Linked DNA regions of Homo sapiens. The main gene of each other region encodes a partner of the protein of the gene in region 4 in a complex. Links are inferred from orthologs where the notes say so. Each region holds a gene or a part of one and is shown on either strand. Other genes may lie near its edges. The genes, in order: SHANK1, ITCH, PAK1 and ARHGEF7.

The links.
Region 1: the proteins of ARHGEF7 (region 4) and SHANK1 are in contact, whole or in part, in a crystal structure (PDB 3L4F), measured with the Rattus norvegicus proteins. The link is inferred for Homo sapiens from one-to-one orthologs. Residues at the interface, in XP_063131056.1 of Rattus norvegicus: Asp735, Ala737, Trp738, Asp739, Glu740, Thr741, Asn742, Leu743; in NP_113939.2 of Rattus norvegicus: Gly673, Phe674, Gly675, Phe676, Val677, Leu678, Arg679, Gly680, Ala681, Lys682, Phe696, Glu703, His735, Arg736, Val739, Ile742.
Region 2: the proteins of ARHGEF7 (region 4) and ITCH are in contact, whole or in part, in a crystal structure (PDB 5SXP), measured with the Homo sapiens proteins. Residues at the interface, in NP_001106983.1 of Homo sapiens: Phe193, Phe195, Thr198, Asp201, Glu202, Arg215, Glu217, Glu218, Gly219, Gly220, Trp221, Glu223, Thr230, Trp232, Pro234, Asn236, Tyr237; in NP_001244066.1 of Homo sapiens: Arg252, Pro253, Pro254, Arg255, Pro256, Arg258, Pro259, Pro260, Pro261, Pro262, Thr263, Pro264, Arg266.
Region 3: the proteins of ARHGEF7 (region 4) and PAK1 are in contact, whole or in part, in an NMR structure (PDB 1ZSG), measured with the Homo sapiens proteins. Residues at the interface, in NP_001106983.1 of Homo sapiens: Lys192, Phe193, Phe195, Thr198, Asp201, Glu202, Glu217, Gly220, Trp221, Trp232, Pro234, Ser235, Asn236, Tyr237; in NP_001363202.1 of Homo sapiens: Thr185, Pro186, Pro188, Val189, Ile190, Ala191, Pro192, Arg193, Lys198, Arg203, Ser204.

The regions. Positions count from the first base shown.
Region 1 is NC_000019.10:50,716,796-50,724,574, reverse strand, and holds the start of SHANK1 (SH3 and multiple ankyrin repeat domains protein 1), read left to right. Parts: upstream 1-4,772; 5' UTR 4,773-5,169; intron 5,170-7,612; 5' UTR 7,613-7,655; coding exon 7,656-7,779. Other genes in the region: CLEC11A (C-type lectin domain family 11 member A precursor), read right to left, coding at 1-165, 484-670, 903-1,049. UniProt on the Homo sapiens protein: Seems to be an adapter protein in the postsynaptic density (PSD) of excitatory synapses that interconnects receptors of the postsynaptic membrane including NMDA-type and metabotropic glutamate receptors via complexes with GKAP/PSD-95 and Homer, respectively, and the actin-based cytoskeleton.
Region 2 is NC_000020.11:34,358,839-34,366,286, forward strand, and holds the start of ITCH (E3 ubiquitin-protein ligase Itchy homolog), read left to right. Parts: upstream 1-4,434; 5' UTR 4,435-4,511; intron 4,512-7,448. UniProt on the Homo sapiens protein: Acts as an Acts as an E3 ubiquitin-protein ligase which accepts ubiquitin from an E2 ubiquitin-conjugating enzyme in the form of a thioester and then directly transfers the ubiquitin to targeted substrates.
Region 3 is NC_000011.10:77,331,093-77,338,107, reverse strand, and holds part of PAK1 (serine/threonine-protein kinase PAK 1), read left to right. Parts: intron 1-684; coding exon 685-784; intron 785-1,825; coding exon 1,826-2,022; intron 2,023-5,240; coding exon 5,241-5,378; intron 5,379-7,015. UniProt on the Homo sapiens protein: Protein kinase involved in intracellular signaling pathways downstream of integrins and receptor-type kinases that plays an important role in cytoskeleton dynamics, in cell adhesion, migration, proliferation, apoptosis, mitosis, and in vesicle-mediated transport processes.
Region 4 is NC_000013.11:111,110,394-111,118,316, forward strand, and holds the start of ARHGEF7 (rho guanine nucleotide exchange factor 7), read left to right. Parts: upstream 1-4,916; 5' UTR 4,917-5,133; coding exon 5,134-5,298; intron 5,299-7,923. UniProt on the Homo sapiens protein: Acts as a RAC1 guanine nucleotide exchange factor (GEF) and can induce membrane ruffling. Functions in cell migration, attachment and cell spreading. Promotes targeting of RAC1 to focal adhesions. May function as a positive regulator of apoptosis.

The DNA.
Region 1 (7,779 bases), on a different chromosome or scaffold from region 4:
CGCGACCCTGCGCCTCCTGCAGGGCTTGCACGGCATCGCGGGTGTCGCCTGCCGCGTTCCGCAGCTGCCGCAGCCCCTGGGTCAGCTCGACCACGCGGGTGTCCAACGCGTGCAGACGGACGTGCAGCTGGTGCAGGCCTGCGTCCAGGCCGGCCAGGCGGCCCACTGCGGACAGACAGGGATCATGCTGGAGGGGGAGCCTGGAGATGCAGCGGGGGGCCTGAGGACCTGGAGAACTGGGATCTAGGGCTCCTGAGGGCGGGGTGGCGGTGGGGGGGGCACCCCGGACTCCTGGAAGGTAGGGTCGAGTGGCCCAGGCCTTTAGGAGGCATGGCCGTGGACCTGGGGCTCCTAGGGGTGTGGGGGCTCTGGGCTGGGCAATGGACAACTGAAAGGCCACTTGGCAGTGAACCGACCCTTCATTTTTGCGAAAGTGACCGCGGCGGCCTAGGAGTTTGGGGGTGAGGGCTTCTGGTTACTCACGGATGTAAGTGACGATGTCCTCAGGGGTGGGAGAGGGGCTGGGGCCGGAGGATGGGGTTGGCGTTGCTTCCTCCTCCTCTTCCTCCCCCTGGTCCTCCTCCATCTCCCAGTCCTCTTTTCCCTCAACAGTTCCGGCAGGATTCTCATCCCCCCTCCCAGCAGGCAGTCCTAGGGCTTCCTGCAGATGCTGGGGCAGGGGAGGGGTGGTGAGCCCCAGCCTGCCACCAAGATGCCCCATTCACCCCTTTCCAACTCATAACTCATTCTCTGCTGCCTGAGTCCTGTCTCTGAGCCCATCACCCTCCCACTCCTCTGAGACTATCCCAATCGCTCCTCATTGTCCATTTCCCTAACCTTGCAATACCCCCTCCCAGACCCACAGTTCACCACCCATAGCTCCCTGACACTCCAGAGCTCACCTTCAGCATCAGGGCCTCCCTCTCCCGCTCCTCCTCCTGGGCACCTCCCCAGCCTCCCTCCCACTCCCTCTCTGCTCCCCGAGCCCCATGGCCAAAGCCCAAGAGCTGGGGGACCACCAAAGCCCCCAAAAGCCAGGCTGCCTGCATTAAGCTGGACTCTTGGCACCCAAAGTTCCAGATGTCTGGATGTCTGGGGTGGGAGGGGTGGCCTCTGGGAACTGCCGAGTGCCCCTGCCCTGTGTGCAGGTCACTAGCCCCCAGGTTCCCGATTCTCCCAGCTTCTCTCTTCCTGTTCCTCTCCTCGTCTCTGTCCGGTCCGTTGGTCTCCTCTGCTTCTCTGTGTGTGTCTCTCCCCGCCCCTCTTGGCTCCCCGGAGGCCCTGCCTCTGTGGCCGGAAACCTCCAACGTTCCAAAGCCTAGATCCCGCCTTGGGTCTCCTCGCACACCCTCCTCTTTCCACTTTCCAGAGCTCGCTTCCGCCCTGCTCTTTCCTTCTGCTGTAGCCCAAAGATCAGATAATCAGGAAGAGGATGGAGCTGGCTCTCCAAGGAATCTTGGAAAACACAGGCCCCGGCCTCAGCCCAGGAACCCGCTCAGAACCATCTCGGCAGTGGTGGGATGCTGGGACCGAGCACTGCTCCCTTCTTCCCTGCCTGGCCATTCCTAAGGAGGGGCAGACCTCAGGGTCTCGCTGAGGTTGTTATTACCCTGTGGCCACCATCGCCTGCACACTCAATGGAGGAGACTCCAGGGCCCCTCCTGCCCCCTAGATTGCCCATCCTACCCTCCAAGCCCTTGTCTGGAGATCCAAGTGAGTGTGTGTGGGGGCAGGGTGACACATGTGAAGAGCACGCGTGTGACTGTGTGCATGACCCTGGAAGACGGGGCTCGGGGATTAATTGGCCACTTTACTAGAAGCCTCCTGCAGGCCAGGCTGTGGGCTGGGTGATGCTGGGGACTCCAGCTGCTTGCAGACCAGCAGCCAGATAGCTCCGGGGATGAGGGGGCTGGAGATGGGAGAGGGTGAGGAGTCTGGCGGAGCAGTCAGGGAAGGTTTCTCCAGGAGGTGAAATCGACAGACGCTAGGTTGTGTGCTCAAGGAGCTCTGAGCATTCAGCAAGCCACCTCATTTCAGCCTGGACCACTGCAGTCTCGCCCTCCCCCTCCTTCCTCCTGAGCCCCTCCAATCCCGGCTGCTTGCCGCAGCCAAAGCAATCCTTCCAAACCATAAATCAGATCACATCACTCCCCACTCCCCTGCTCCCCCACCTTCCCATCATAAGCAGGAGGGAAGCCAAGCCCGGGCCTCAGTCCTCAGCGCAGCCTACCATGCTGGGGGCTGGGAAGGAAGAACCCTTTGCACCTCTGCAGCCTCATCACCCCCATTCCCTTCACCCACCCCCAGCCTCCACCTTCCCTGGCCTCTTGGCTCATCCCCAAATACTAAGCTGATTACAACCTCAGAGCATTTGCACTAGCCCTTTCCTCCTTCTAGAAGCCTCTTTCCCCAGCTCCTTCTCATCATCGAGGTCTCAGCTCCAGGAGGTCTTCCCCAACCACCTTATCTATTCCGCAAGTTACTTTATTAAAATGCCCCATTTCATCTTTTTGGTATAATCAAGACTGGCATGATCTTGTTTGTTTATGTCTGTTCCCTGCCAATGAAAGCAGGGATTTTTATGCACTGATGCATCTCCTAGCACAAGGCCTACCTAGCACATAGTAGGTGTTCAATCAACCTGTTGAGTGGGCGAGAGGGTAGCCGTTCCTGGTGGGGTCAAAGGCCTGGAAGCTTCACCTCTTTGGTTTGCTGGCACCCAAGTTCCCAGGGTGGTGGTGGCAGGGTAGGTAGAGGTGGTGAGGGCAGTGGGAGAGAGGCTTGGAGGCAAGGAAGAACAATGCCATGCCATGCCCCTCTATGTCAGGCCCATGAGTCATGCAGGGCTTTTCCCGCCCAGGCCTGGCTGGTGGTGCCAACAAGCATGGGGCACACCAGCCAAGGATCACTGGGCCTGCTCTTCAAAGGAGGAGACCGAGGCTCTGAAACAGCATAGCCTGCTGGAGGTCACCAGTGTGGCGGCAGCTAGCCAAGGTTTCTGGCTCCAAGAGCAGGGCATCTGCCCTCGGCTGCCGGGAGCCCCAGGAGGGGCCTTGGAAATCAGTGCCTCCAGCCTTCCGTTTTCCAAGAAATCCTGGTACATCGAGGGCACTGTGACCTTGGGCAGACTGCTCCCTGCCTCAGAGCCTGGGCCTCTCAGGTGCCCATCGGGAACCTGGGGCCCCTCACCAGGAGCTACAGACCTCAAGAAATAATGCGTATGTGGGGAAAGGCCTTGTAAAGTGTGCAGGGGTGCACAGCCTCTCTGGCTGCTGGAGCCAACATGGGCAGCTGTGCTTTCCCCGGGCCCAGCTGCTCACCACCTGGGCTAGTGGGTACGCATCAAGATAGAGGCCTCCCCAGGCTGAGCAGGCACCTCCTCCAGCTCATACTCGGGTACCCCGGAGAGCCTGCAGCTGGAGGGGAACCCAGAAGCTGCCTAGAACTGCCCCCTGCAGGCCCTGGAGGTGCTGTTGGAGCTGGGAGAATGAGGAAGCCTGGGCTAAGGGGACACTCACCACTCACTGCTGCCCTGTGGGATCTGCTCTGTCCCTGTGGGTGCGTCCCAGGCATGAATGAGCTGTCTGCCTGCAGCTGGCTGCATATGCGTGCCTACACAGACATGTGCAAACTCTGAGGAGACGGTTGGGTGTGTCTGTGTGTGATGAATAAGGATATGCAACTATGAGGGGATATGCCCAGTAGTGCACCATAGTTGTCAAGTGAGGACTTTGGAGCCAGCCTACCTGTTCCTGATCCTTGTTACCACCTCCTTACAGCTGGATGACCTTGGGCAAGTTACTTAGCCTCTCTGTTCCTTGGTTTCCCCCTCTGGAAAATGGGGATGGCGAAAGTCCCTGAGCCTGGCACACAGAAAGTGCTCCAGGAATGTCAGCAGTAACTATCCTGGAGGGGAAGGATGGCACGGTGTTGGGCATGTAAACGGGTGAGTGCGAGCCAGTGCAATGGACAGCACGGTGGGTGGGTGTGATGGGAAGGCGTGCACACGTCTCTACAGTGCTGTAACTCCGTTTTGGTGTTGAGAGATCTGGGCATGCATACCGGGGTGAACGCCTGTGTGCGTGTGTGCGCGCGCACGTGCGTGTGTGGTGGGCAAATGTGTGCATGTGCTGCGTGTGTGCCCGGGCACAGGGGTGTGACAACTGCATGTAGCTGGGTGTGTTTGTAGCTGTGTACCCCAGGTGCATTGTGTCTGGGCATGCATGCGCTGGAGAGTGTGTGTATGTGGGGACTCTGCAGGTGCCGTTACAGCTGGTGACTATGCACCTGTGCCTTGGGGAAATGTGGCCTGGCCCAGGTATGTCCACGTGTGCCCTGACCCAGTGCTTAAATGGAAAGGGTGTGTGTGTGTTTGGGGGGACAGGGTGGGAATCTATAGCCTTCACACTTAAATTTGGGGGTGTAGAGTCTGGCAACAAATATTTATTGTGCCCCACTCTGTGTAGGGCGGCGGGGAGCTCTCTGGGAGGGGGTGGTCCTGAGGTGTGTGTGGGGGGGCACCTTATGGGGGCAGGACCCCTTCCTCGGGGTATGGGAGCAAGCAGGGGCGGAGTCAGGATTTGGGGACTCGGAGGTGGGGAGGAGTGGTGGGGGAGGGCAAGGGTAGGGGGCGGAGCCGGCGGTGGTGGGGGATGGGCGAGGTTTGGGGGCGCGGGGAGGGGCGATGTCTCCTCCGCCGGCTCCCGGAGGGAGGGGAGAGGGCGGAGGGAGGGGAGGGAGGGAGAGAGGGAGGGAGAGAGACAGGGTGAGGGAGAGACAGCGAGAGCGAGAGAGCGAGAAGGGTGGCAGAGGAGGCGCGGAGCGGGCGGCGGCGGCGGCGGCCCGAGGAAGAGGAGGAGGAAGAGCAGGCGGAGACGCGGCGCCCGGAGCCGGCCGGACCGAGCCGGGGGCGGGCGAGGAGGGGCGCGGCGGCCGCGGCGGAAGGGGGGGCGCTCTGCGGATGGCCAGGCCCGGCCCGCGGGGGGGGTGAGGTCCTCGGCCCTCCCGCCCTCCCCCCCGGTCCCCGCCCGCCCCCTCCCCGGGCCCGCTCGCCCTCCGGGGCGGTGGGGCATGGCCTGAGGGTCCCCGTCTCCGGGGGGGTGGGGGGTGGGGGGAGGGGGGAGGGGCCGCGGGCGCCGCCGACCGGGACTCAGCAGCCCCGCCAGGCAGGTAAGGGGGTCGAGAACCTGGGGGTTTGGGGCAGCTGCGGGGCCGGGGCCGCGGGAGGGGGCGAGGGCGCCCCGGATGTCCTTGGCCCGGCGCCGGGCTCCTGGCCTGGGTGTGCGGCTGGGGGTACGGGTGAGGTGGGGAGCGTTGCCCTGGGCGACACCAAATTGGGTTACGCCCGGGTCCCCGGTGCCCCGTCCCAGATCGCATCCTTGATGGGAGGGCGCGCCCCCCACCCCCGGCCAGCAGAGCCCCTATCCCGAACCCGCCTCCCGGCTCTCCGGGGCCAAGGGCTCGGTCCTGGTACCCGCCTCCCCGCCCAGCCCGGCCACTCCCCCGCCTCGCCCTCCCTGGCGTACCTGGGCCCCTCCGCCAGGTCACCCTGGTCCCCACTCCCCTCCAGCGAGGGTCTAGGCCCGGGCCTCCTCCGCCCCTTTCGACCCCTCCAGCTCCCGCTTCTCCTTCCAGGCTCCTCCAGTCCCTTTCCACCCCTGTCCAAGCTCCCTGCGTCCCCACCAGGTCTCCAGTCCCTACACCGCCGGCCGGCGCGCCCCCTCGGCTCCCGCCCCCGACTCCTGCTCCCCGGTGCCCCCCGCCCCTCTCCCCGGCCGGGTTCTCCCCCACCAGTTTCCCAGCCTCGGCTCCGGCTCTCTCTCCCCGCCCCTCCCCGCCTCCCTCCGCCTCCATTCATTCTCCCCGGCCCCGCTCTCGGCCACGCCAGCCGCCCCCTGTCCCCCCACAGCCTCCCAGGGCACCCCCTCTCTCGCGTCCTCCACCACCCCCCTCGCCGATTCCTCAGCCCGTCTCGGTACCAGCTGCGTGCCAGCTATTCTTAGCCGCGGAGCGTTTGATTCATGCCGCCCCGGCGGAGCGTGCCCGCTCCCTCCCGCGAGCCCTGAGGGGGAGGGGCCGGAGCCGGCCCGGGGGGGCTGGGGCAGCCGTACGCGCGGGGGGCCCTAGCCAGCTTTTCTTTCATCCCACCGGCCACCCCCTCCGAGCGGGGTTGAGGCTGGGGGTCAGCCAGGGTCAGCCGAGGGGGAGTGTCTGCGGGCCCCAGATCGCGAGGTGGGCTGTGCGGCGGGGCAGGGAGGAGGCAGCCGGGGTCTCCGCAGGGACGAGGTGGGGCGGCGTGGCTGGGTACCTGGAGGGGGAGGGGGCTTCGCAGCGCTGCCGCGCGTGGGGGAGGGGTCCGCCGGCCCTGGGTTAGAGGCTCGCTCGCCCACACCTCCTGGAACTCTCCTCCCACCACACACATTTAGTCTTCCCTTTCCCAACCCCCCAGCCCATCCCCACTCCCCCAAAGTCAGCAGTACCCTCCACTGCTTCCCATCTCCATGGCAACGGTGCAGGAACCGGGCCTGGTGTTGGGGGGAGGGACCAGACCAGACATTCTGGTTTCCGGTGCTGGGGTGGGAGTTGGGGGAGAACAGAAGGGAGGCGGACCCCATTTGGAAGGGGCTCCACCCTCATAAGGCCACCTCAAGGGAGAACAGCAAGGATCTAGAGATGATCCCCCACTCAGTTCCCCAGACCCTCCTCTCACTTCTTAGCCTCCCTCCTAACACCCCCAGTCCTCAGAGTGGAGCCCCTAGTACCCAGCAAGCCAGCCCACCCACCCTGCAGTCCTAGAAAAGAGCTACAGGTCATCTGCAGCCACCCACATCTACCCGGGCCACCACACCACTGTCACCTGGACAGCACTCCCCAGGCCGACCTCCCCACCTACCCGCACACCCTCTCAAGATGCCCCAGTCTCCAAAAGCCACCTCTTGTGGTTCCCTTGGGGACACCCTAGGCCAAATGCTCTGCCCATGACACCCCCATCTCAGTGCCCCTTGCTCCCCTGGGACGGCAGATTCCCCAGCACTATTCGGCATGCCACGCGTTGTCAGCCACACTTGAGTGAAGTCACCAGCTCCACCCGCTCCAGGCTCACCACACCTCCCTCTCCCCCTTACTACATCTCAGTGTCAGCCTCAGCTTCTCCCCAACCCCACCCCCCGGCCCTGGGATGAGGGGCCAGGCTGGGGCCAGGAGGGCAGGATGCCTGTCAGTTTGTCCACCTGTCTGTCCTTAGCTAATTTTAGCTGCATTTTCTGTGGCCTGGCAAAGTGGGCCAGTAGCTCCCGCGGTGATTCTGCGGTTTCTGGGACACGGCCACGCTGGGTCACCAGCAAAGTGGGGCGCAGGGGGCGGGCTGCAAGCGGGGCCAAGGGCAGGGAAGGAGACACATGCCAGAAGCATGTCAGGGACAGGGGTGTGTGCGTGCCAGCGTGGGAGGAGGCGGCAGGGGAGGCCGTGCAGGCCGAGGGTGTGTCCAGCCTCCTTCCTGCCTATCTTGGGCAGTGGGGGTAGGCTGCCCTTGACCGCTTGACCACCGAATAGCGCCTGCGGCCTCTGAGGGGTCCCGGGCTCCTAGTCTGATGGCCGCCCTTGGCCCCTGCAGCCGCCTGTGATGCTGCCGTCCCCCGTCGCCCCGTGGCCCCACAATGACCCACAGCCCCGCGACAAGCGAGGACGAGGAACGCCACAGTGCCAGCGAGTGTCCCGAGGGGGGCTCAGAGTCCGACAGCTCCCCAGACGGGCCAGGTCGAGGCCCCCGGGGGACCCGGG
Region 2 (7,448 bases), on a different chromosome or scaffold from region 4:
GAGCCACCACGCTCGGCCTCCTTTACTTTCTTTTTTCTTTTTCTTTTTTTTTGAGATGGAGTCTTGCTCTGTTGCCCAGGCTGGAGTGCAGTGGTACGATGTCGGCTCACTGCAGCCTCCACCTTGCCTCCTGGGTCCTGGTTCAAGCAATTCTCCTGCCTCAGCCTCTGGAGTAGCTGGTATTATAGGCGCACGTCACCACGCCCAGCTAATTTTTGTATTTTTAGTAGAGGTGGGGTTTCACTATGTTGGCCAGGCTGGTCTTGAACTCCTGACCTCGTGATCCACCCCCCTCAGCCTCCCAAAGTGCTGGGATTACAAGCGTTAGCCACCACGCCCGGCCCCTTTACTTTCTTAATAAACTCATTATCGGCTGGGTGCCGTGGCTCATGCCTGTAATCCCAGCACTTTGGGAGGCCGAGGCAGGTGGATCACCTGAGGTCAGGAGTTCAAGATCAGCCTAGCCAACATGGTGAAACTCCACCTCTGCTAAAAATACAAAAATTAGCTGGGTGTGGTGGTGTGCGCCTGTAATCCCAGTTACTCAGGAGGATGAGGCAGGAGAATCACTTGAACCCAGGAGGCGGAGGTTACAGTGAGCTGAGATTGCCCCACTGCACTCCAGCCAGGGTGACAAGAGCAAAACTCTGTCTGAAAAAGAATAATAAATAAATAACTTGTTTTCACTTTATTGTATGGACTTGCCCCAAATTCTTTCCTGCACGAGATCCAAGAACCCTCTCTTGGGGTCTGAATCAGGACCCTTTTCCTGAAACAGTAACACCACCCAGATCAGGGCACAGAACATTATTACCTATCCTGAGAGGTGTCTTTGTGCCTTCTTCCAGGTACACCCTCCCCTCAAAGAGTAACCAGTATCCTGACTTCTAACACCATAGACTAGTTTTGCCTAACCTTACATAGTTTTTAAAATTGTAGGTGAATACAGAATCTGGAGCTACAGGACTTAGGGTTAGATCCCTGGTTCCTGGCTGAGTGATCTTCAACAAGCCATTTAATTTCTGTCACACTCAGTTTTCTTCTCTGTATAATGGTCATAAAAATACCTTGTACTGGCCGGGTGCGGTGGCTCACGCCTATAATCCCAGCACTTTGGGAGGCTAAGGCGGGCAGATCACAAGCTCAAGAGTTCAAGACCAGCCTGGCCAATATGGTGAAACCCCATCTCTACAAAAATACAAAAATTAGTCAGTCGTGGTGGCATGCACCTGTAATCCCAGCTGCTCGGGAGGCTGAGGCGGGAGAATCGCTTGAACCCGGGAGGCAGAGGTTGCAGTGAGCGGAGGTTGGGCCACTGCACTCAAGCCTGGGCGACAGAGTGAGACTCAGTCTCCAAAAAAAAAAAAAGCAAATTCTCAGGCCCTGCCCCAGACCTACTGAATCAGAAACTCTAGGAGTGGCCTCAGCAACCTACAGTTTAACTAACTTTGCAGGCAATTCTGATAAGTACTGAGGTTTGAAAACCACTGCACTAGAGAAACTGAATGAGGATGGGGCGCAGGAATCTGTATTTTAGCAATCTTTCCTAAGGCATGTTGCAGGAAACATGAAGTGGTTTTGAAAGTACTTTGCTTGAGGCTTGAAGGCTTGAACCTAGGAGTTTGATTTTTTATTTTTTTTAGATGGGGTTTCACTCTGTCACTCAGGATGGAGTGCAGTGGCGTGATCTTGGCTCACTGCAGTCTCCGTCTCCTGAGTTCAAGCAATTCTCCCACCCCAGCCTCCCGAGTAGCTGAGATTACAGGGGTGTGCCATGCCCAACTAATTTTTGCATTTTTTTTTTTGAGACAGATTCTCGCTCTGTGGCCCAGGATGGAGTGCAGTAGCACGATCTTGGCTCACTGCAACCTCCGCCTCCCAGGTCCAAGCAATTCTCTGCCTCAGCCTCCTGACTAGCTGGGATTACAGGCACCCGCCACCACGCCCGGCTAATTTTTGTATTTTTAGTAGAGATAGGGTTTCACCATGATAGCCAGGCTGGTCTTGAACTCCTGATCTCGTGATCCGCCCGCCTTGGCCTCCCAAAGTGCTGGGATTATAGGCGTGAGCCACCGTGCCCGGTCTAATTTTTGCATTTTTAGTAGAGATGGGGTTTCACCATGTTAGCCAGGCTGGTCTTGAACTCCTGACCTCAGTTGATCCATCCGCCTCGGCCTCCCAAACCATGCCCAACAAATTTTTGCATTTTTAGTAGAGACAAGATTTCACCATGTTGGCCAGGCTGGTCTCAAACTCCTGACCTCAGGTGATCCACCCGCCTCAGCCTCCCGAAGTGCTGGGATTATAGGAGTGAGCTACTGCGCCCAGCCTTTATGTTTCTTTTGTTGTTTGTTTTTTGAGACAGAGTCTCGCTGAGTCGCCCAGGCTGGAGTGCAATGGCGTGATCTTGGGTCACTGCAACCTCCCCCTCCTGGGTTCAATCAATTATCGTGCTTCAGCCTCCCAAGTAGCTGGGATTACAGGCACCCGCCACCACACCTGGCTAATTTTTGTGTTTTTAGTAGGGAAGGGGTTTCACAAGGCTAGGCGTGGTGGCTCACCCAACTCTACTAAAAATACAAAAATTAGCCAGGCGTGATGGCATGCGCTTGTAGTCCCAGCTACTTAGGAGGCTGAGACAGGAGAATCACTTGAACCCAGGAGGCGAGCGGAGGTTGCAGTGAGCCAAGATTGCGCCACTGCACTCCAGCCTGGGCGACAGAGCAATACTCTGTCTCAAAAAAAAAAAAAAAAAAAAAAAGAGACGGGGTTTCACCATGTTGGCCAGACTGGTCTCAAACTCCTGACCTCAAGTGATTTGCCTGCCTTGGCCTCCCTAACTCCTGGGATTACAGGTGTAAGCCACTGACCCTAGCCAAGCCTAGGAGTCTGAGAACAGCCTGGGCAACACAGGGAGTCCACGTCTCTACAAAAATAAAAACAATTAGGATAGTGTGGTGGCTTGAGCCTGGAGTCCCAGCTACTCAGGAAGCTGAGGTGAGAGGATCACTTGAGCCCAGGAGGTTGGCTGCAGTGAGCTATGATTGCACCGCTGCACTCCAGGTTGGGTGACAGAGCAAGACTCTGTCTCAAAAAAAAAAAAAAAAAAAAAGTCACTTTGAAAAATGTGACTTTCCAGATGGCAAAATACTATTTTCATTAGGAGGAAACAGGCTAAACAGTAATAGCAAAGGTCACTAAGTATTGAGCACTTAGTCATACCTCTGAGTCTCTGCCTGCATAGCCTATTATTTCTCACAAGCAATCCATGAAGAAGGTTAAGACAACGGACTTTCACGCCAGACTGCCTGGGTTCTTATCAAGTATGTGACTTAGTTTATATATTTGTAAAATGGGGATAATAATGGTATTTCTGTAATAGGTTTGTTGTGAGAATAAAGGGAGCTTGGTATCAGCTCTTAGAATACCGGACAGGCCACGTTGGCTCCACTAAGCTGTTGTCATCATCCCTAAGGGCACCCAGTTAAAAGGTAGAAAAGGGAGGATTTGAATCCGGTCAGTGTAACTCTCAAGTGTACATTTTTTTTCTTTTATTTTCTTTTTAACCACGCCCTTTAATGTACATTGTTAAAGGCTAAGCCAGGCCAGGTGCAGTGGCTCACATCTGTAATCTCAGCGATTGGGAGGCCCGAGGAGGGAGTATCGCTTGAGCCCAGGAGCTGGAGACCAGCCTGGGCAACATGGCGACACCGTGGCCCTATTCCCGCCCCATCCCATCCGCACTCCACCCCATCCCCATCTCTACAAAGAATAGAACAAAATTAGTCGGGTGTGGTGGTGCTCAACTGCTGTCCCAGCTACTCAGGAAGCCCAGGTGGGAGGCTCGCTTGAGCCCAGGAGTGTGAGGCTGTAGTGAGCTATGACTGCACCACTGCACTCCAGCCTGGGTGAAGGGTGAGACCTTATCTCAAAAAGAAGAAAAAAAAAGAAAAGGAAAAGAAAAAGAAAAAAGAACAACTAAGTTATAAACTAAGCTATATAGCCCATTGGTTCTCAAATTATGATTTCACTCACTAGCAGTATCACTAGACAGCTTGTTGGACATGCAAATTATCAGACCCTATCCTCCTATGCCAGATCTTCTGATCAGAAACTCTGGGGGTGGGGGTCAGCAGTGTAAGTTTTAATAAGCTCTCTAGGTGATTCTGATGCACACCATAGTTTGAGAATCACAGTCCTTATAGGCTCTGGTGGGCGGGGTGTTAAAAAAAAAAAAAAGCCTGGAGGTGCTGGGAGCCGCTCGCGCCCATCTCACCTGGAGCTGAGGAAAACTGGGATTTAACTGATTTACCACCGCAGCCAGCTCTTCAAGCCAGGGGCGGGCCGGACGGCTGGCGCGCAAGGCCTGCTGGGGCTTGTAGTCTAGACCACTTCCGCGCTCAGGCGCCTGCGCTTTAGCTGCTAACTCGCTCTAGTAGCTGTGGTCGGGGCTCGGGACCGGCTGCCATCTTAGTCTAGGGACTGAGGAGTCGCCGCCGCCCCGAGTCCCGGTAAACCCCCGTGGGCGAACTCGGGGCAGTTCTCGGGAGAGGGAGGGAGTCCGGATGAGAATGTTCGGGGAGAACAAGGGTAGAGGAGTGGGACGCGCGGTTCGGGACCCCAGAGCCGCGGCTGCTCCTTCTTCCAGAGCCGGTGTCTGTCGGGGGCGCGGGGAGCTCGGGCTACTGGCCCGGGCCGGGCGGTGGGGGTGGGCTGTCTGGACGTTCGGAGGGATCAGTGTCTGGCACAGGCTTCCGGAGGCCTTCGCCTCGCGGGCTCCAAGTTGTGAAAGGGCTGGGCCACGACGGGCGTGGGTACCGTCCGGCCCCTCGCCCCTCAGCCCCGCCTGGGGCCACTCTCCAGCGGTTCGGCCTACGCGCGGGGCCCGGCGGCGGGGCCGGCGCGGGCGACGTGGCCCTGTGAGGGGCGGCGGCCGGGTCCCCCGCCACCCAGCTGGCCTTCTCGAGACTTTTCCGAGCCCCCAGTCGCTAGAAGGGCCCAGCACAGCGGCTGCCTCCCCTTCTCTCTCCCACTCGCCTCCTCCTTCCATTGTCCCCCCGGCGTGGTGGTCCCGGCTCCGGCGCCCTCCCCGACGTCCGCCACCGTCGTGGCGGCGCCGACTTTTGCAGACGTGGAGCTGTCACTGCCCTTCCTCCGGAGAGTGCCCTTTTCTTTAGCAGAGAAAAGAAAAAAGTAGCCGTTGAACGTATTCTAAGGGTCGAAGCATGATGACATGACTTTTAAGTGGAGAACTCAAGTTTTCCAAGACAGTTCCCGTCCGCGACAGAAAAGAGAATCGCAGAATTTGTGCGCCCGAAGTAGACGCTGGGCCTAAAGTTAGTTGGACATGTAACCAGGTGAACTTGTAAAGGGCCAGGAATTCATTATCCCCAATAACAACGCAACCTTGTTTTCTTGGTTGTATTCGTATCCTAATCTTATTACATTTTCTGCCATTCTTCCACAGCTACAGTATACTTGGTTTGGAGTGGGGGATGGGGAATTGTGGGATTTTTGCCTTGAAAATTAGTAAGACCCTGGAGCCAGCCACCCACTTAGGTGGGTTCTCCTGCATCTTTTCCTGATAGAATTCGATCTTCAGGAAGTATGTAAAGGCAGTGTATTTCCATTCTCAAAATCGGCTAAGGAATGGTTTATCAGTTGAGGTGAAGTTCTCATGGCAGATCTGCTGAGAGCTTGCTATGTGTATTTACAGGTTTATTTAAGCTACGATTTATTTTTAAAATTAAGAAATGGGCCGGGTGCTGTGTGTGGCTCACGCCTGTAATCCTAGCACTTTGGGAGGCCGAGGCGGGCAGATCATGAGGTCAGGAGTTCGAGACCATCCTGACCAACATGGTGAAACCCCGTCTCTACTAAAAATACAAAAAAAAAAAAAAAAAAATCCTGGGCGTGGTGGCGCGCGCCTGTAGTCCCAGCTACTAGGGAGGCTGAGGCAGGAGAATGGCTTGAACCCGGGAGGTGGAGGCTGCAGTGAGCCGAGATCTCGCTGCTGCACTCCAGCCTGGGCGACAGAGCGAGACTCCGCCTCAAAAAAAAAAAAAAAAAAAAAGCAATGGGATGGGTGTGGTGGCTCACGCCTGTAATCCCAGCAATTTGGGAGGCCGAGGTGGGCGGATTACGTGAGCCCAGGAATTGGAGATCAGCCTGGGCAACATCGTGAAACCCCGTCTCTACAAAAAATACAAAGATTTGCCGGGTGTGGTGGCAGGCGCCTGTGGTCCCAGATACTCAGGAGGCTGAGGTGGGGGAATCACCTGATTCCGGGGGGTCGAGGCTGCGGTGAGCTGTTACCGTTGCCACTGCATTCCAGCCTGGGTGACAGAGTGAGACCCTGTCTCAAAAAATAAAAAAAAAAATTTAGAAATGAAGGTGGAAATTCTACTGCTTCTTTGAACTGTGAATTTAAGTTTTGTGAGTCCAAAAGGAATTCCATTACATTCAGCATACAGGTCAAGTCACCAAGGATATCATATGAAATTAAAAAAATGAGTACAGACTACTTCTTCAGTGTATTCTAGAATCAAACATTTCTACATTCTTTAGAAAAAAATACATCTTTTTCGTTTGTTTGAGACGGAATCTAACTTTGTCACCCAGGCTGGAGTACAGTGGTGTGATCTCGGCTTACTGTAACCTCCGCCTCCCGGGTTCCAGCAATTCTTCTGCCTCAGCCTCCGTAGTAGCTGGGACTACAGGCGCGTGCCACCACTCCCGGTAATTTTTTTGTATTTTTTAGTAGAGATGGGTTTTCACCATATTGGCTAGGCTGCTCTCGAACTCCTGACCTCGTGATCCACCTGCCTTGGCCTCCCAAAGTGCTGGGTTTACAGGCATGAGCCGCCACTCCTGGCCCTAAAAAATACATCTTTTCACTTATTGGGAGAGGCAGACAAACCAGTAGTCCCCAAATTTGACCATTAGAATAATTAGGAGAGCTTAGAAATTCCAGGGTCTTACCTTCTGAGATGGATTTAGTAGGTCTGGGTTGGCTTCAACCAATTTATTTTTAACACATGCCTTAGGTAATTCTGATGGTCTTGGGAACCACTGAGGGCAAATGGTACTGTAGACTTACCAAGGAAAGGTCAAAAAGCTTTGAGACGAAAGAGGAAGTGGCCAATTCTGTGTGTGTGGCTGGGTGGAGGATTGGTTAGAAGAGGCAAGATTTGCCCCTGAACCCACATTGGGTCTTACATGAAGAGTAGGAGTGTGAAAAGGGCGGGGAAAGAGAAGGACAGGGTAGGCTGAGTGAATGCCTTAATGCTGTGTGTAAATTCAGAGGATTATGGAACAAAAAGGGTTCAGGGAGTGTGGAGTGGAATGGGGAAGGAGAGCATTTTGAAACGCAAGGTCAGAAAGGTTAAAGGAAGCAAGTATATGAAAAGTGATTTTTTGTTGTTGAGACTGGGTCTCACCCAGTCACG
Region 3 (7,015 bases), on a different chromosome or scaffold from region 4:
ACCATTGTGTCTCTTTATTACTCATTCTGCCTGCTAAGTATAGGTGTTTTCCAAGATTCTTCTCTTTCTCCTTTACCCTTTGCCGGGTTCAACCATTTTTATAACTTAAACAAAAATCATCTCTTCCCAAATGACTTGTAAATATTTACCATAATTTATCATAAATTAAGTTGCCTACCAGACATTTGTCTTCAGATATCAAATTCAGCATATCCAAAATAGTACAAAATATCTCCTCACCAAAATAAGATTATCCTGCTAACTTACTGCTTCTAGTATCACTTCCATATGTCTGCTTCCTCAAATATGACCCTTATTTGTTGTTTTCCTCTGGTCTGTCATTATAAGATCCTTTCCATTTTTCTTCAGTAATTTCTCTTGGGCCTTAGGTCCTTTACCAAGGATCTAATTAGAAAAAAAATTACATTGGAGGAACTCCTTTACTTAAAAAAACTGTTTTAAGGTGAAAGGCAGCATGGAGTGTTAAAAGAATGTTTAGCTAGGAGATGGAAGACTTGTTTCTAGATCTGGCTCTGCGATTGATTTGGGGCAAGTCCTTTTACTCACTGGGGCCTTACTTCCTTTATTTTAAAGTGAAGAGGTTGAATTAGTGGATTTTCTATTAAGTCTTCTGTATTATATGTATGTCCTTTCTTTCTCCCCCTGCCCACACCACTTCAATAGTGTCTGCAGGCTCTGGAGTTCTTGCATTCGAACCAGGTCATTCACAGAGACATCAAGAGTGACAATATTCTGTTGGGAATGGATGGCTCTGTCAAGCTAAGTAAGTAGGAGCCTTAGGAATGATAATACTTCTCTGCCTGTGGGGCCCTGTCTCCTGTGAGATGGTCATCATATAATAGTAACTACGACACTCACCAAAGGGTCTTTATGATTTCATGGGATATGAGGGCTGTTTTATATTTTCTGTATTAATCATAGGATATCATTTCATTATTTTTTCATTCATTTATACATTTAACAACAACCACAAAAAACTTTGCTGAATGGTTACTCTGTGCTAGGTCCTGTGATGGGCACTGAGAGTAAATTTTCCCTACCTTCTCAATCTAGTATGGAAAACGTGTAATAGATAATTAGAAAAAAGAGTTTTGTATAATTTCTTTCATTCAGTTATTCAGCAAACTTTTATTGAATGTCCAGTACATGCTGGTCCTTCTAGGGATATGAGGACAAGTAAGAGGACATAATCCATACTCTCAAAGGCTTCCTAATTTAAATAAATTTATAATTGCAATATAATGTAAAAACCATGGCAGGTAGAGCATTTTGTTCAAAGGTGTAAAGACCAGTAGACCAGACAAACAGGCTGTGTCATGGGTGGATGGGCAGTTTATGGAAGGACTGCTAGCAGCCCTGGGTCTGGGGCATAAAAACAGGGCCATGCCTAGTCATAGGTGATTGGGGTTTAAATCAAGGACTCGTGCCCAAGGAATAAGACAAGGACCTAGTCGCCAGATTTGGGATTATGGGAATGGTTTTTCAAGAACAAAGCAGAATTGGGATGAGCAATCAAGACCAAAATGGGCAGCTTGGACTTTAACACTAAGTCCCCTGGTTTGAGGAGAAGTAGGAGGCCAGAGATGGTGTTTCTTATATTCCTTCTATTTCTCTTCAGGGTTCAATAGGAAATAGGCTAGGAGCTAGACATGAAGGTGGTAGTCAAGTGACTTTGGAGAGACAAAGGATAGCAGAGCTGGAAGCCAGGCGGATCTTGTCACCTATGTGTAGGTACACAGTCAACACTTACTGAAGTGAGTGTATATCCTAAATGTATGTTCTTTCTCTTATTTTTCTTTTCTAGCTGACTTTGGATTCTGTGCACAGATAACCCCAGAGCAGAGCAAACGGAGCACCATGGTAGGAACCCCATACTGGATGGCACCAGAGGTTGTGACACGAAAGGCCTATGGGCCCAAGGTTGACATCTGGTCCCTGGGCATCATGGCCATCGAAATGATTGAAGGGGAGCCTCCATACCTCAATGAAAACCCTCTGAGAGTGAGTGTTACCAGTTCTATTTCAAGTTATTTGGGCTGTTGTCTCTAGTCCCAGGAAATAAGAATCCAGGGTGTTCTCTGTGGTTTTCAACCTGGAGATCCCTTTTCTGGATACAACTAGTCACTGTTGAACTTAAAGTATAAATGGCCAAAGAAAAGGAATATTAGAAGTCACTCATTCATTTATTCAACAATTATTTGAGTCCCTGTCAAGTGCAAGAAACTATTCTAATGAAAATAAAATAAATTAATATGTAGTAACAGATGGTAAATGCTGTGAGAAAAAGCAAAGTAAGGGAGTTAACAGAGTAATGGAGGAACAGGTGTGCTATTTTAGAGTAGAGAGGGAAGTTCTCTCTTATAAGTTATTTTATTCTGCAGAGTTGGGAAGTCATTAGAGGGTTTTGAGCTGAGGAGTAATGTGATCTGATTTATGTTTTAAACAGATCATTTTGGCCGCTTTTATGGAAAATAGACTGCGAGAGACTGTTGTAATAGTTCAGAGTGGTGGTGTCTTGGTAGGAGTGGAAGTGAGAAGTGGTCAGATTCAGGAAATTAAAGGACTAGCTGACAAGATGAACTGAATATTAGAGAAAGAGGAATCAGCAATGACTACAAGATTTCTGGTCTGAATTGCTGAAAAAATTCAGTTGCCATCTGTTGAAATGGTGAAGAGCATACTTAAGTTGGGTAATAAAGAGTTGGTTTTGAATGTGCTGATTTGAAGTGTTAATTGGACATTTAAGTGGAGCTGGAGTAGAGTTTGGCTTAAGAGTCTGGAGTTCAAGGGTGAGAAGTCAGGACTATAAACATAAATTTATTAGTAGATAATATATAGTTGGTATATATAGTAGGTAGATGAGATCACTCACCTAGGGAATGAGTACAGTTAAAGAAAAGAGATTTGAGTACTGAGCTCTAGGTTATTCCACTGTTTACAGGTTGGAAGAACTAGCAAAGTAGACCAAGGAGTGGCCTTTCTAGTGTGAGAGAACAGAGAAGTGTCTTGGAGGTGAAGTGTCCTGGAGATGAAGAGAACAGTGTGCTTCCCGAAGGAGGAGGAGGGTAGATTATGTGTCAAATGTGATTGATAGGTTAAGATGAGACTGAGAAATGAACATTGGATTTGCCAATGTAGAGGTTCTTAATGACCTTAATAATCAGTTATCAGTAGAGAGATGGGGATGAAAGTCTAATTAAATTCATGAAAGTGGAAGAAGAGGACATTGAGATGGCATGTATAAACAGGTTTTTTTTTCTCTTAAAGGAATTTTGCTGGGAAGGGTAACAAAAATGGAGCACTATCTTAAAATGGAGTCAAGGGAGGGTTTTTCTAAAAGATGATGTCTGTGTGCTAATGGGAATGATTTAGTGGAGAGGAGGAAAATGGTCATGTACAAGAAGGAAGTGACAACCATAGAAGTGATATCCTTAAGTCGATGAGAGGGGTTCGATCAAGTACTGAAGTAAAGGACATTAGATTAGCATGGACAATTTATCCCTTGTAACAGAGCATCTCAACACAGGTGCAAATAGGTTGGTAATCTTGGTGTGGGCAAATGTGAAATTTATTCTGATTGCTTTTATTTTCTCATTTATTCCCACCTCCCATCCAGTGCAGGAATTCCCTGTGCACTGTTGCTGGTAGGTGGTCATCTACATGCTCATGTCATCCTTGAATATCTCTGATTATTGGAAATTGCTTCAGTGCACCAAACTGAAACTACCTTCTGTAGTTTCTATCCTTTGATCCCAGCTTTGCCTCTGACTCCACATACAACATACTCTTCCCTCCCTTAGAACGGCCTTGCAGATATTTGAAGATGATAATTGCTGGGATATGTTGGAAATAAGACAGAATGATCCTAGACATAGGCATATTTTTTTATTTTTTTATTTTTATTTTATTTTTTTTTTTGAGATGGAGTCTCACTCTGTCACCTAGGCTGGAGTGCAATGGTGTGATCTCAGCTCACCGCAACCTCCACCTCCCAGGTTCAAGCGATTCTCCTGCCTCAGCCTCCTGAGTAGCTGGGATTACAGGCACCTGCCACCATGCCCAGCTAAGTTTTGTATTTTTAGTAGAGACCACATTTCGCCATATTGGTCAGGCTGTTCTCGATGGTCTCGAACTCCTGACCTCAGGTGATCCACCCACCTCAGCCTCCCAAAGTGCTGGGATTACAGGAGTGAGCCACCACGCCCGGCCCTAGACATATCTTTTTATGTTTCCGGACCCTATCTGTGAAGTGAAGATGATAAGTCTTGCCCTATTACCCAGAGTTAATTGTGGCCATTAAATTAGACAGTGCTTATGTAAGTACTCTTTGAATTAAGTGCTGAGTGCTTGTAAAGATTTAGTCTTACTGTTTTTCTTTACCTTTCCCAGGAGACGCTTCATTTAGGGGACTAGGGTGGCAACAGTTTTCACTTACATTTAATATTCCTTTCCTGCTAGAAGAGATCAGTTCTTGGATGACTGAGGTGAAGGCACCAGGAATAATTTCTGCCAGCAGCTGGGCAGATGTTTAACTCAACAGGCTAAATGGATAATAAACCCTTCAGATGTGTAAGCAAGAATAATAATAAAGCCAGGCACAGTGACTCACGCCTGTAATCCCAGCACTTTGGGAGGTTGAGGCAGGAGGATCACTTGAGTCTAGGAGTTTGAGACCAGCCAGGCCAACATGGTAAAACCCCGTCTCTACTGAAAATACGAAAAGCAGTCGGGTGTAGTGGCTGGTGCCTGTAATCCCAGCTACTTGGGAGGCTGAGTCAGGAGAATTGCTTGAACCTGGGAGGTGGAGGTTGCAGTGAGCCAAGATCGTGCCACTGCACTCCAGCCTGGGCGACAGAGCAAGACTCCATCTCAAAAAAAAAAAAAAAAAAAAAGAAGAAGAAGAATAAACCCTTAGGTCTGTAACATATTTCATAAGTTTACAAAGTACTTTCAAATACACTATCTTATTTTATTTTTACAGACATGTGAGATGGGCATTATCATCATCCCTACTTTACAGACAGGGAAGTTGTACATAGTCCCATGGCCTTTAAATGTTCAACCTGATCCTTAGGTCATACTCTTTCCAGTATATATACACAGCTGCTACTTTGCATCCTAGAGCATAAAGCAGCTGACCATATTTCTAGAACTTGTATATGGGGAACAAGAGAGAGCCTCATTTGGAGCTCAAGGTGATTCACCATTTTTATTGCCAGGCCTTGTACCTCATTGCCACCAATGGGACCCCAGAACTTCAGAACCCAGAGAAGCTGTCAGCTATCTTCCGGGACTTTCTGAACCGCTGTCTCGAGATGGATGTGGAGAAGAGAGGTTCAGCTAAAGAGCTGCTACAGGTAACTGTCCTTATGCAGGGAAGCACCTAATTCAGGGAATCACTAAACCAGGCCTTTTTTACTTCATGTTTGTAAGGTACTGGATATTATAGAACTAGGCTTCTCTTCTACCACTTCCTACACTCACTCTGTTCCTACTGCCCTTTTATCCCTGGGCCTTTGCTCATTTATTTTCTTAGCCTTTCTCAGCCTGTTAAAACTCTACACGTTCTCCTAGGCTCAGTTTACAATCTATTTTCTGAGCACCTATTGAGCTTTGCTTGTAGCTTTTTTGCTTGCTTCCTTCCTTCCTTTCCTTTCTTCTTCCTTTCCCTTTCCTTCCCTTCCTTTCCCTTCCCTTCCCTTCCCTTCCCTTCCCTTCCTTTCCCTTCCCTTCCCTTTCCCCCCCCTCTTCCCTCTCCCCCTTCCTCTCACGCCCCACAGGGTCTCACTCTGTCACCCAGGCAGGAGTGTGCAATGGCGTGATTTTGTCTCACTGCAGTCTTCCTCTCCTGGGTTCACTCAAGTGATCTTCCCACCTCAGCCTCCCAGGTAGCTCAGACTACAGGTGCACGCCACCATACCTGGCTAGTTTTTTAAAAACTTTTTTGTAGAGACGGGGTTTTGCTATGTTGGCCGTGCATGGTCTCAAATTCCTGGGTTCAAGCGATCTGCGCACTTCGCTTTCCCAAAGTGCTGGGACTACAGGCATGGGCCACCATGACCAGCCTGCTTGTATCTTTCATTAGCACTTCCTTTGTTCTGTTTGAATTAGTCTGGCAGAGTTTGTTTGAGTCTTGTTGAGAAACGGGTCTCTGACACCCAAATCTTACACAACTTATATTTTGCTGGGATTAGCTCAAAGGATACATTTTTAGCAAAGGAACATAAGTTTATTTTATTTTATTTATGTTTTATTTTTCTTTCTTTTTTTTTAATTCTTTTTTTTTTACATTTTATTATTATTATACTTTTAAGTTTTAGGGTACATGTGCACAACGTGCAGGTTTGTTACATATGTATACATGTACCATGTTGGTGTGCTGTACCCATTAACTCGTCATTTAGCATTAGGTATATCTCTTAATGCTATCCCTCCACCCTCCCCTGACCCCACAACAGTCCCGGGTGTGTGATGTTCCCCTTCCTGTGTCCATGTGTTCTCATTGTTCATTTCCTACCTATGAGTGAGAACATGCAGTGTTTGGTTTTTTGTCCTTGCAATAGTTTGCTGAGAATGATGGTTTCCAGTTTCATCCATGTCCCTACAAAGGACATGAACTCATCATTTTTTATGGCTGCATAGTATTCCATGGTGTATATGTGCCACATTTTCTTAATCCAGTCTATCGTTGTTGGACATTTAGGTTGGTTCCAAGTCTTTGCTGTTGTGAATAGTGCCACTATAAACATACGTGTGCATGTGTCTTTACAGCAGCATGATTTATAATCCTTTGGGTATATACCCAGTAATGGGATGGCTGGGTCAAATGGTATTTCTAGTTCTAGATCCCTGAGGAATTGCCACACTGACTTCCACAATGGTTGAACTAGTTTACACTCCCACCAACAGTGTAAAAGTGTTCGTATTTCTCCACATCCTCTCCAGCACGTGTTGTTTCCTGACTTTTTAATGATCGCCATTCTAACTGGTGTGA
Region 4 (7,923 bases):
AAGCAAATTTGTCCTCTTCCCAAAAGGGGAACAGTATATCTACTTTCCAAGGCTGTTTGCTTTAAAAGACTTTTGAAAATATAGTCTGCAACAAAAGCTGTCATTACCTCTGCTCAGATATTCAGAAGTGGAAGAGACTCATGGAGAAAGGTCTCCCAAGAATTCCAAAAAGAGAAATTAAGAAGAGGGAAATAAGAAATTGAAATGTATCAAATGTGTTTTTCAAAGTCTGTGAATTCATAATGGTATTCAGAAAAATCACTGGTCTCCTCTGCAGGATGCTGGAGCACCAACTCGTGATGCTGAAAAGTGGTAAACAATGGAAAATGAGTGAGCATTTATCTTGCCTTTCCTGTAGGAACTACGTTTCAGAGTACACATATAGCTGATAAAGAACAGTACCTCTTGCAGAATTCTAGCTGAAATATAACTGAAGGACTTATCAAGATATGGCAATTCTGAATGAAACACTGAATCTAGTAGGAATTATGAATAGTTGCTGAAGCAAATAGATGATGATGGGTGGAATCATAATGGATGGATCTGGATAGTAACACCAGAATGCACCAATCGATCCTGCATCACAGAGATCCCAGGACACCACGTTCCTTCTGAGTGATGATAGTAAGTTCCACTTCCCCTTCCTCTCATGTAATATTTCTGGGGCAGGGTCCTGATTTCTCAAAGGGCACTATTGGGAGTAAAATTGTCCACCAAAAGATATGTTGAAATCCTAACTCCGAGTACCTGTAAATGCAACCTTATTTAGAAATAGGTTCTTCACAGATACAATCAAGCCAAGATGAGGCCATCCCAGATCAGAGTGGGTCTTCACCCAGTGACTAGCATGCTTATAAGAAGAGAGAAATTCAGACACTGACACAGAGAGGGAGAAAAGTCCATGTGAACACAGAGGCAGAGATTAGGGCGATTTATACCCAGTACAAGGAGGTTCCCTTGGATGGCTGGCCACCCACAGAAGCTGGGAGAGAAACCTGCAGCAGATTCTCCCTCTGGGCCCCAGAAAGAACCAATCCTGCCCACACCTTCACTTCAGACTTCCAAACTTCAGAAATGGGAGAGAATATATTTCTTTTTATTTGAGCCGCCCAGCTTGTGAGACTTTGTTACGGCCTCTCCCAGAAATGCATAGGCCCCAGTAGGACTGCAGCCCAGGTTCCCGTAGCAATAACCTGCCAACAAGGCAGCCTTGTGTTTAGCTTCTCCCCTTCCCTGTCCCATCGTCCCATTTTCTCCTTTGTGCTTTTCATGGTCACTTCCCAAATAGGCAGCCTGCACTGAAGCCCTGGCTCAGGGTCTGCCTTCGGGGACAGGAGGGGACAAACCAAGGCAGATGGTATCAGAGGGGACCTTGGAAAGCAGATGCCCAGGGGGAGAATCCCAAGACACATCTCTCCCCAGCCAGATGGCACGGCCTTAGGACACTGTGTCAGTCAGCGTTCTCCAGAGAAACAGACCAATAGAATCTCTTTCCATTGACCAACTGATCAATTGGGAGAAAGGGAGACAGAGGGAGGGGAGAGAGACTTATTACAGGGAAGCAGCTCATGTGACTATGGAGGTGGGCACATCTGCTCTGCAGGGGGCCCACAGGCTGAAGAACCAGAGAAAATCCTCCCTTACTTGGGGAAGGTCAGTCTTTTTTTCTATTCAGGTCTTCAACTGATTAGATAAAGCTCACCACATTGGGGAGGGCCATCTACTTTACTCAAATGTTCATTACATCCCAAAACCCCCTTTCGCAGACACACCCAGAATAATATTTAACCAAATGTCTGGGCACCCTGTAGCCTCGTCAAGTTGACACATAAAACTCACTGTCACAGATGCCATTGTTGATGCGCCATGAGTGGCAATCTCCCACGCCCATTCTGCACCATCACAGTGACTGTGCCGCTCACCTGTGCGGAACTGGCATGTGGAGCAGGTGCGGTGGAAGCGCTGGCTTATGAAATAACGCTAATGCCTGCAGTTGAATTGTCCCCCAAAAGATACGTTGGGCTCTGCTGAATCAGAGGTCACTGGTGGGGGAGCCCTCAATCCAGAGTCCATGGGTAAAGTCAGCCTTCCTGCCCTCTGGCCAGAAGGTGCTGAGACCTGTTCCACTTGTTTCTCAAGGGCCCCCCAGGGGAACAGAGCCCTAGTGCTCATTTTCACCCCTTGACTCCCTTACCTGCTTCACTCCCCTTCCTCACTGTCCTTCCTGGGGTCACTCCCTAGCAAGCCACTTGCACCCAATTTGTGGGCTCAGGGTCTGCTTCTGGGGGAAACCCAACCAGGAGAAGCGTCTTGTTGGCATCATGTTTCATAATATACTATACTGGTCAAATGCTTTCTGATCCTGCATACTCCTCCAGCCATATGTGTTGATAAATTAATGTTTCCTGCCTTGCATCTTTTAATTTTAGCATTTGATCATATTTATCCCAAATGAACAGGACCTTGTTTCATACAATAACACACAGCAGATACAATGAGCTGCATAGAGCCACTTCGTAGTGCATTCTCCAATCTAGACAGGGTCCAGTTGGATAAGGGTAGTTCTACAGGGAGTGATTACTACCCACTCTAGGTAAATGGTCATCTGATTGTCCAGCTTAAGTTTGGAGTGAATTTTGCCTTATTTTTTAGATTTTGGCATTTTTATAGTGACCCCACACACGCTGAGTTGGCAGGGTTCAGCTGAGCTTTGGGTGGTAACTGGTTTGCAGTAGGGTTTGTGCGTGAACTCCTAACAGTGATGTGGAAGGTGCCTACCAGGCACTAGCAAGCAGCCAAGCTGGGTGTGAGGCTGACATTCTCTCATTAGAAACGAAGGAAGCGAAGCCACAGGCTTGCGTGGAAAGCCATTCTCCACCTCTTGAGGCAAGTCCAGAGGAGAGCCACAGAAAGGGCTAAACTTCCCCTTAGACAATAGTCTTAACTCGAGCTAACCCAATAGCCCAAAAGTGATGGGCACCAGATTGCACTCCGCGTGGCCTCTGTAATAGGAACCTGGAAAAGTGCTAAGGAAAGTTTAACCAAAATGCCCACTTTGGATACTAAAACAACTCAATTAAGCACCTAAAAATATCTAGCTTTGAGCAATGTTACTTTCTAAAATCCCTTCCAAGTAAACTCTTTTTCTGAAATTAATAAATACCCAACATAAAAGAACGCAACTAGTAACCATAAAGTGTTTAAAAGTCTGGGCTTCTCCCCACCAAGAAAAGACGAGTTGTAATACCTGGACTGTGGGTCTCCAGTCCGACAAGAATTGGCTCTCTGCTTCACTGGTCTCGTAAGGTCACTCCCTAGAATTGGCTTTCTATAGGACCATTTAATTGAGTCTATTTGAATCTTACTCAAGTCTACCACCTTATAAGTATCAAACCGAATTTAGTAGGATTCGAAATGGTAAGGACTGCATTAAATTATTTCTCTAATTCAGCAGTAAGGAAAGTGAACAGAAGTCTCGGTGTACAACCACGCCCCGGGTTGACATCTTTCCTTCCACGAAGACACTGGGTACAAGCCTTGATGTAGCTGTTAATTGCCCTCCTGTTTCCTAGAAAGCTTATAGGGCAGCAGTAGGAAACGGGTTAGGTATGCCTTTCCTGGTAGGAGCCGAGCTTTGGGTCTTATCTCTGCCACTTGTTCGGCATCTGATCAGTAAAAGGGGACCATGATGGGAGGCGAGGCAGTAGACAGCACTTTGTGACGGTTCCTAACCAGTCGCTGTTATCACTGAGCACATTGTCCTCGTAATCCAGAATTCATACTGCCATTTGAATATTTTTTGTATTTGCAAAGAAAATTTTAACCACTTAACTCAAGGCTAGAAATAAAAGCAATTAGTGATTGCAAGAGAAATCCACCGGCAGAAGGCAGGGGGAGACGACTTAAGCCTCTGATTATTTTTGGAAGCTTTATATGCTTTCTAGCCTTTGTCATTGAATGGATTAATGTATGTGCCTGGCATAGACTAAGTGCTTTGCTTGTTAAACTGCCCGCGGGTCATAGCGAGCAAACTGGGGGAGCGCCCAGGGACAGTGGATGGAGTGAGTGGAGACTCGTGTCCTTTTAAGAAGAGGCTCCATTTCTTCCTCGCATGTCAATGTGTGCGTGTCATCAGTTGTTCGAGGAAGCTCGCGCATGACGCGACACTTGCCGTCTGGGCTCTCCAGGTTCGGCCTGCTGCTTTCACAGCCCAGATCTTCGGCGTCCCCGAGACGCAGCCAGGCGCCCGGCCCGGCCCGGCCCGGCCCTCTGCACAGCCCCACTTCAGGCCACGCCGTTTCCTTGACCTTCCCCCGGCAGGGTCTGAAGCGTCACCGTCCGTCTAGAGCAGAGTCGCGCAGGCCCCTGCCCTGCCGGTGAGGTCGGCGCCGCGCTCCGGAGAGTCGGTTCCTCCCGATTCAGACCCATATGGCTTCAGATGGAACCATCATTTCTGTTCCGTCATGACCGGCTTGCAAGGTAGCAAAGCGAAACAAACGTCTCGTTTTCAGCCTGTCCCCGCCACCTTGAAATAAAACCGGCAAAAATAAAAAGAGCATTCTGGGAAGTACTTCATCATTTCAACGCTCACGAATTCAAAACATAAACAAAGGCTTCCGAGTGCCCCGGCCAGGGGCGCGGGGCGCACGGCGGGCCCGGGGCAGGTAAGCGCAGGTGCGCGCCCGCCCCCACCCCCGGCTCCCTCCCCATCCGCTCCCCGCTCCCCTTCCCCTTTCCCTTCCCCGCCCGCTCCCAGCCGCCGCCGCCGCCCCGCGCACGGCCTGGAGCGGAGGCTGCGCAGGGCGCGGGGCGGCGCGGGCCGGGCGCGGGCCGGGCGGACGGCCGCGTCTTTCTTCTCCTGGCGGTGATGTCATTGGGCGACGGCGGCCGAGGCCGGGGGGCGGCGGCGGGCGCCCGCAGGTTCCCGAGCCGCTCCTGAGAAGGCGCCTGACAGCGGGCCGGGGCGCACGGAGAAGCGGGCCGGGCCGGACCTGCTGGGCCGCGCCGAGCCAATCGCCGGCGCCGGCCGCTCGATGGGCGAGGCGGCGGCGGCGGCGGCGGGGGCCGCGGGCCGGGCCGCCGCTCCGAGGTGAAGGCGCGCGCCCCTCCCCGCCTGCCTCCCGGGCCGCAGCGATGAATTCCGCCGAGCAAACCGTTACGTGGCTCATCACTCTGGGGGTGCTGGAGTCGCCCAAAAAAACCATCTCGGACCCGGAGGGCTTTCTGCAGGCGTCGCTGAAGGATGGGGTGGTCCTCTGCAGGCTGCTGGAGCGCCTGCTCCCCGGGACCATCGAGAAAGTAAGTCCCGGCCCGCGCCCCCGCCCGCGCCCCCCGGTCCGGCCCGCTGCGGCCCGGGATGCGCGCGGAGCACCTGAGGCCGGCCGCGCTCGGGAAACCCGTGCGCCCTCCTTTGTGCGCGGAGCGGCGGCGCGGCCGGCGCCAGGACCGTGGCGGGAGCTCGGGGGGCGCCATTGTGTGCGGGGCAGGGGGAGGGGGCCGGGGAGCGGGGTCGGGGGGAGGGGCGGCGCGGGCGGCGGGGGTCCCCGGGAAGGAGAGTGCACCGCAGCGAGGAGACGGGGCTTCTGCGCCGCCCGAACGCTAAGTTGCCCCTCCGCGTGGGGGGCCGGCCCCGCTCCCTGGCAGCAGCCGCATCGGAAACCGCGTTCCGACGCGGTGCGGCTCACTCCGCTGGCTTTGTGTGGACAGTTCTTGCCGGTGGCGTTGCGTGAGTTTCGCCTCCCAGGTTAATTGACCGGTTGCTCTGTATTTTTAAAGAGGCACGCATCTGTAGCTGAGGGCTGCGCTGTGAAACGATCTACTACTTTCCCCTCGAGAAAATTCCCCACCTATCCGAGCCGAGAGGACGGCAGACACAGGGTCTAAGTCCTGGCACTCTTCAAGGCTTGTTAAAATTCTAGATTTCGTTCTCAGGTCCCTCCCTCGTTCTGAACAGAACCTTTAGTCCTGCAGGCACTGCTTCTCCCTTCCGGCTGGTGGTTCCCAGGCTGGAGCGTGTGAACCCTGACCCGAATCTCTGGAAGTGATTAAAGTTTGTTTTCATCGCCCACAAGCCGGCCAGCAGGGCCGAGGAGGCAGGAGAGTTTCTAAAAACGATGTCTCCCTGTAGCTCAAAATACTAAAATCTTATTCCCAGGGTGTTTCTTCGGGGGGTGGGGTGGGGGTGGGGGTGGCCAATATATAGCGTTAAGATCAACAGTTATTTAAAAGGTGTTAAATATAGAAATTGAAGTGTACCATAATTAGGAAGAAGGATTTCAGTTTTTAAGTGGGGTGTATTGGCCCCCATACAGGATGACAACAACTTGTAAATAAAATGCCACGTAAGTGACTTGAAAAAGTAAAATGTTTAATTTTTTTCATTCACATGTACATATTCTCTTGCTACATTTTAAATGAGGTCAGAAAACATTTTATTTAATATGAATTTGGCTTGCATTCCACTTTTAGCTATTTTTCTTACTTGGAACATCTTTATGAAAACAGAATCTGCATATTAGAGTGAATGGCTGCCTGCCTGTCCATGAAATAAAAATGTTCCTTAAAAATGAACCTGATGTCACAGTGAAATTATGATTTAAGACAGGAGGACTGAGGAGCAGGAGCTGACTTTCAAGGCATTCAAAATACTTTGCTGTTTGGATACTGGTACCTCTGGTAATGAAAGACAGATGTTGAAAAGTGTTGAAATGCATGCAAAGTTCACCAAAATAGGCTTAAATAAAATTCTGTTCCATCCCTAAGAGCAAAGCTTTAAGAAGTGTCATATGCTGTATTGATAAAAACATGTCGCCATCAAAGAATATGTTGTTTGGCATATTAACTGTATTAATATTGATTGGCCGACTTCAATAATCATTTTCTTTTAAATTATAGAAAGATTTTCCTAGAAAACCGTAGCGTTCATTTCATCTCTAAAACAACAAAGAGAAGAACGAATAAAATGTTGAGCTTGCAGAAGCCAAGTTGAAACAACTCAACATATTCTAAAACTACAGTCATCTGGAAATTTCTTAGGTCAGAGCTGTTTTTGATTCCCCCTGAGCTCCAGTTGGTTTGTGTTAAACTGACTCTGTCACAATGAAAGTTTAATGTGAAGGCAGCGTATTGTAGACACAGTTACTGGTTCTCTGGAGTTCAAAGGTAGGTTTTTGGAGTAAAATATTAGCCGTTTTCTGCCTCTGAGATCCCTGTGTTTCAGAAGTTTTGTGAGCTTTTTCCATTTGCTAGGCAGAGTTATCTGGGTTTCTTTCTTTCTTTTCTTTTTCTCTTTCTTTCTTTCTCTCTCTCTCTCTGTCTCTCTCTCTCTTTCTTTCTCCTTCCTTCCTTCCTTCGAGATGGGTTCTTGCTATGTTGGCCAGGCTGGTCTTGAACTCCGGGCCTCAAGGGATTGTCCCATCTAGGCCTCCCAAAGTGCTGGGATTACAGGCGTGAGCCACCACGCCCAGCCAGTTATCTGGGTTTTTGGTGTTTTCATGCTTACCAGATAATCTATGCCACAAAGCACACATGCTGAATAACTTTTACTTAAATGTGGGAATGTGAGTCTGAGGATGTTTTTTCCTTAAAAAGAAGCATTTGGAAACTTAACTGAATGTTCATGTGGACATGACAGGGGCTTCGCTTGACCTCTGCTGCAGGAGTGCCCTGACAGCCAGTGAGCGGAGGGCAAGTGGCCTGCAGCCTTCGCCTCTGCAGGCTCACAACCTGGCATGGGCCATGAGGCTGGGGATGAGGGCAGAACTAAAACGTGGCTGGGTGCCTCGGGCTTCCCATATGTCTTTTATTAAGAAACCATGCCCTAATGTGTTTCTTCCATTACGCTCATTTGTTCTGTTTCAGAGTTAGGAAGAGGGTGGAGGGAGCAGAGAGGACGTTCACGGCGTGTCAGATTCTTCTGCTCAT